Linked DNA regions of Homo sapiens: region 1 is linked to region 2. The links come from fine-mapping of genetic effects on gene expression. A gene starts in region 2. The other region holds a variant in brackets. All regions are shown on one strand. Distances are between the middles of the regions.

Region 1 (3,023 bases), 34 kb after region 2:
GAGAATATATTCAAATGGGATGCCACTAAGTTTTTTCTTTTGATAGATGTTAACTATTACTTTGGATGAAAGTGATTGTTTTGCTGCCTGGGTTTCTGCAAAAGATGCTGGTTTCAGCAGCCCTGATGGGTCAGATCCAAAATGTGAGTTTAAGTGTCCTTCATTTTTTTCCTCCCTTCTAAAGAGAAGATGAATATGAGCTGTTTTTTGCTAAGTACTTATCTTTGTAAAAGTTCTCTATATTTTGTTGACTATGTCCTAAAAATGTGGTATGTACAAATACCTAATGTATACAAATCATTTTAGTAATTTCATATGGAAATAGCCGTTTAAAGAATCTGATTCTCGGCCAGGCGCAGTGGCTCACACCTGTAATCTCAGCACTTTGGGAGGCCGAGGCGGGTGGATCACGAGGTCAGGGGATCGAGACCATCCTGGCTAACACGGTGAAACCCCGTCTCTACTAAAAATACAAAAAATTAGCCGGGCGTGGTGGCGGGTGCCTGTAGTCCCAGCTATTCGGGAGGCTGAGGCAGGAGAATGGCGTGAACCCGGGAGGCGGAGCTTGCAGTGAGCCGAGATTGCACCACTGCGCTCCAGCCTGGGTGACAGAGCGAGACTCTATCTCAAAAAAAAAAAAAATCTGATTCTCATGTTTGTTTTTAAATAATAGCTGTATCTGAACAACCAAGTAGAATATGTCTTTGCTCCATAGCATCATTGCTTTAAACATTCTAAGATAAAATTTTAGCAGAATTGGCAAAATGACTAAAGTCTTTATTTTAGACATCATTCGCATTGGGTTAAGAATGTAACATCAGAATATGTACAAACTTACAATTTTTATTCTATTTTTAGGTTAAAGCCAAGTAACTCGCTTTTCCATTTTATCTCTTTTTAATTAACTTTTTTGCAGTGAATTTAGGAGGACTTTTACTCCAAGCACTCCTGGAATATTGGCCTAGAACACATGTGAATCCAATGGATGAAGAGGAAAATGAAGTAAACCATGGTTAGTTTTTATATTCAGATAGTTGCATAAAAAGTTAGAGGTACTTACTTAAAAGGTACTTACTAAAAGGTACTTACTTAAACCGTTAGCTAAAATATTTGTGGTGTACTCAGTTTATTGTCCTCTCTTCCATATCTCAAAGTAGGAACATCCATCCAGTCTTAACTGAGACTGAGATTCCAAAAGAGCAGACCACCTTATGATATGGCTTTTAGTGAGACTGCTCAAGATAAATAAAATACT[C/CTATATT]TATATTCAGATGACTTTTGTCTTAAAATGAGGCACCTTAACAGACTTATTTCCAAAATATTCTTCAAGGTACCTCTGATCTTTTGGATTAACCTCCAAAGCTAGGTAGTTAGCTGCATCAGAAAGCCAGGTTTGTCATTGCATAGTCACTCTTCATGTTGGGCTGAAATGTTGGTATTTCCTAGTCTCATGGCCTACCTGATTTTGACTCTGTTTCAAAAAAAAATTCAAATTCCAACTCAGAAGTGACAGGGCATATGCTCAAGCATGTGTAAAGAATTAATGTCACTGAGGACATCTGAAACGTGTGTGTGCCATAGGCAGTGGCAGTAACGTTCCCTGAGCAGCAGAGGAGAACATGTTTTGAATATATGCATTTGGCTCAGTTTGATCAAAGGAAGGGGAAACAAGAACTTAGAATTTCACATCCTCATGTGTAACCTACAGCTGGTTGAGGAATCATTGAGTCCCATCGACTGAGGCTTACTCTGCTGAAGATTCTCTGCTGGCCACCAGGAGTGAGCAACAATGGCGAGTACCTCCTGCCAGGGACTTTGTTCTGGCTGTCAGATTCACCCATAATGATATGTGGAATTTAAATCTCTCACATGAGGATGACATGCTTCCTTGAAAACCAGTCTTCTGATGTTCCTGTCAGAGAGAGGGTGCTGTTGCCCCACCCATGGTGGCTTTTCTTTTACATCACCTGACACACTTTGATCCCTGTCAGAATTGTACAGTGGACTTTGAGCTAAAGAAACTGATGGAAAAATCTTTCCACAGAGGGTCAAGAAAGCTAGGTTCTGGGGTGGGCTCTGCTGCTTAACAGCTATGTTGCTGTGGGCAAATCATTTCCAGTTAGATGGGATACTCTCAGCCACCCAAATAAGCAATAAGGATTAAGTTATCAAAACAGTGGTATAGTCATGCACCCTTTGGATCTAGGCTTTGGGTGAGGAGTATAAGGAAGACATCACCAGAAATCACGTCATCCTTAACATCAGACTGCATGGGAAAGGTAGGGCAGGGCATGGCTACTTCCTCATCCAGAGCTCAGACCACAGCACCTGCAGCATACTCAGTGGACACTCTGGAGTTGTTCAGATGGTGCTTGGTGAGCAGCTCTACTATTCAGGGGCCCTTACCAAGTTTCAGGTGGGGGTACTAAAGACACATGGGTATGGTCCCTGTCCTTCAGGAGCTGATGTTCTGGTATGGCAGAGAGTTACTTATGGAAAGCATTCTGAGATAGAAGGGTGCTAGGAGAGAGGTTCCACAAATGCTATAGGATTTCAGGGGGTCAGATGCTTCCAGTTTGATGAGGAAAGTGTCATGAATGAATTGGCACTTGAGTTGGTATCACCCACCTGTGCTGGGTCAAAAGTTTATGAAGAAAGCAGAATGGAGCTAGGCGTGATGGCTCACACCTGTAATCCCAGTGCTTTGGGAGGCCTCTAATATTTGTTGACAGTGATTTTGACGTCTGTGCTTGTTGGGTCATTTACTACTTGATGGCTTATGTTTAGGCTGCCCTGCCCAGCAGCCTTGAACCCAGGAGTTTGAAACCATGCTGGGCGATATAGCAAGATCCTGTCCCTACAAGAAATGTAAACAATTAGCCAGTTGTGGTGGTGTGTGCCTATAGTTCCAGCTACTCAGGAGGCTGAGGTGGGAGGATCACTTGAGCCAGGGGAGGTTGAGGCCGCAATGATCTGTGATCACACCACTGCACTCCAGCCTGGGCAACAGAATGAGACCCCGTCTCAAA
Region 2 (2,500 bases):
TTCACTAGAGAGGGTCTGATCACCCTCAGCTCTTATAATTAGTGGTCAGGAAAACCACCTTAAGTCAAACCTAACTGTTCCAGTATAAGAGATGATTTAAACTAGAATTGTCTCTGGGAACAATTTTAGCTGGTGTACCGTTTTCGCCTTCCTATAACATCTTTTTGTCTTGTTTTTTTTTTTTAAACTTTTAAGTTCAGGGGTACAAGTGCAGGTTTGTTATATAGGTAAACTTGTGTCACGGGTGTTTGTTGTACAGGCTATTTTGTCACCCAGGTATTAAGCCTAGTACCCATTAGTTATTTTTCCTGATCCTCGCCCTCCTCCCACCCTCCACCCTCCGAAAGGCCCCAGTGTGTGTTGTCCCCCTCTTTTGTGTCCATGTGTTCTCATCATTTAGCTCCCACTTATAAGTGAGAACGTGCGGTATTTGGTTTTCTGTTCCTTTGTTAGTTTGCTTAAGGATAAGGGCCTCCAGCTCCATCATGTCCCTACAAAGGACATGATCTCGTTCTTTTATGGCCCCACTTTTTATCCTTTTAATTTAAACGGATTCTTTGCTCCCCCTGAAGATGGAGGCCACCTCCTTTGCAAGGACTTCTATCTCTCCCCCTTTGAGGCCACGACATAATTCTCCGCATTTTTAGGTACTTAACAGTAAATCACTTGGTTCACTTGGTTCTCCTGCCTGCCTAGGAAAGGTCAGGAGATGGTCCAGCGCCATGTCTAGCACTGTTAATTCTTTCAGTGCTTTCGTTTTGCTTGGGCCTCTCGGGGAGGGCGCGGAAAAGAGCGCAAGCCAGGGTCTAGGACCACACAAGTGAATTCGTGTTGCTCCCTCAGCCCTGAAAAGTGGCTCTCTCCCCATCAGCATTATACTTGCACAGTGGTTTTGTTTTTAGGTGCATCTACCTCATCACATGGCTACCGGCCACACAGCAACTAACAGCACCGAGGAAACACAACAGCCTGTTTACCTTCAGCCCCGCCACTAACCCTTGGCCAAAGGGAAAGGGGCAGGACATCCTCCCGCTCTGAGCCACCTCCGGAAGTGACGTCGGAGTGTCAACATGCAAGATGGCGGCCCATCACCGGCAGAACACAGCAGGGCGGAGGAAAGTGCAGGTATGGAAGCCCGGTTCCTCGGTCTTCCGGACGCGGCCGGCAGCTCCGGGCCCACTCCAGCTAGAAGGTGCCCGGCGCCACGACCAGCTGGGGTAGCGGCATGGGGCGAACGGGGCGGGGCGCGGCCGGCCACGAGGGGTGGGGCCGCGGCGCTAACGGCTTGAGGAAGGGGCGGGGGTCGGCTTGCTTGGCCCTTGGGGCCCAGGCCCGGGACCCTCGTGGGCGGCATTCTGAGCCCGGGATTGCTTGTCGCCGCTCTTCTGTAGGAGTGGACTTGCGGGGTCGGGATAGGCTCGTTCCCCGCCCACTTGCCTCCCCCTTGCCCTGTCTTTCTTCGAAGCGCTCTGCCCTCGCTGCGTCGGAGCCGAGGCCTCCAGGGGTTTCCCAGGGGGGTGGGCGTTGGAGGAGTGAGCGGCTTGTGCGGGGGCGTGGCGAGGCGGCGGAGCGCCAACGGCCCTGCGGGGTTTCTGCTGAGGATTCCGCACTTGGGAGCCCCCAGCCCTCTCTTATGTGGGAGCTGTCCCCTGGGTAGGTTTAAGTGACATAAGAATGTGCGTGGGGAAATTATAATTTTAATTGTTTTGGTATTTAAGTTCCTCTTCACCATTTCTTCATCTTAAGTGTGCATCGCTGAATCTGTCTTTATTGTTTGTGTAATTTATTGTCCATGTGGTAAAGAGTTGTCTAATCTTACCGTGTGTGTCTTGTGCCTTATGCCTTTGTGAATTCACTTTTGTTTGCGGTTACGCTTAAGAGTTACTGCCACTTCGGGGAACATCACACACCGGGGCCTGTCGGGGGCTGGGGGCGCTAGGGGAGGGATAGCATTAGGAGAAATACCTAATGTAAATGACGAGTTGATGGGTACAGCAAACCAGCATGGCACACGTATACCTATGTAACAAACCTGCACGTTGTGCACATATATCCTAGAACTTAAAGTATAATAATAATATTAAAAAATAGTTATTGCCACTTAATATTTTCAGTGATGCAGGGAATAAAAGCCCTCTTACAGGTGTTTGCCTGCAGGTATATTGTATGTGGTAGTGGCAGTTTGGTGCATTTATTCATTAAACATTTACCTAGCACTTAGGGTGGCCCCCAAAGGGGAAAAGGGATTGAAAGGGTGTAGAAATAATTAACACCTAGGCTTTCTTTATAAAACACAGCATTATATGGAGTTCTGCGGGTTGAAATCAAGTGTCAGATAAAGGTAGTTAGATGAAGGGGTCCTTCAGTAAGGTAATCCCAGCAGAAGGTGGTAGGCCATAAAGTCTTCTGATTAGTTCACATCTTGGTTTTATTGATCTCACTGATCAGTACAGTGTCTTAAGCACTCACTGGATGTTTGTTGAAATGAGTGAAATTAATA

Direction of the effects. Positions count from the first base shown, and alleles are read on the strand shown. Sizes are in standard deviations (SD) of each study's normalised expression.
For the expression in monocytes of the gene that starts at base 1,068 in region 2, CTATATT is the high allele of the variant in region 1 and C is the other (large effect, 0.82 SD a copy in Kim-Hellmuth 2017).

The links. PIP is the estimated chance that this variant, and not a neighbour inherited with it, causes the effect.
Region 1: its variant is the best candidate, but not a certain one, in a credible set for the expression of WDR48 in monocytes (Kim-Hellmuth 2017, PIP 0.61).

The regions. Positions count from the first base shown.
Region 1 is chr3:39,084,599-39,087,621 of GRCh38, forward strand. It overlaps WDR48 (WD repeat domain 48), which reads left to right. Exons shown (of 19, transcript NM_020839.4): 13 at 47-143; 14 at 917-1,012. Among named protein-coding and RNA genes, the nearest start is that of GORASP1, 22 kb to the right of the region's middle. RefSeq lists an enhancer at 1,793-1,852. The variant C/CTATATT (reference allele first, on the strand shown) is at 1,256.
Region 2 is chr3:39,050,949-39,053,448 of GRCh38, forward strand. It overlaps WDR48 (WD repeat domain 48), which reads left to right and starts at 1,068. Exons shown (of 19, transcript NM_020839.4): 1 at 1,068-1,125. The coding sequence starts at 1,078. It overlaps SCN11A (sodium voltage-gated channel alpha subunit 11), which reads right to left and starts at 996. Exons shown (of 30, transcript NM_001349253.2): 1 at 913-996. RefSeq lists enhancers at 229-1,101, 772-861, 872-921, 942-1,131 and a silencer at 1,172-1,271.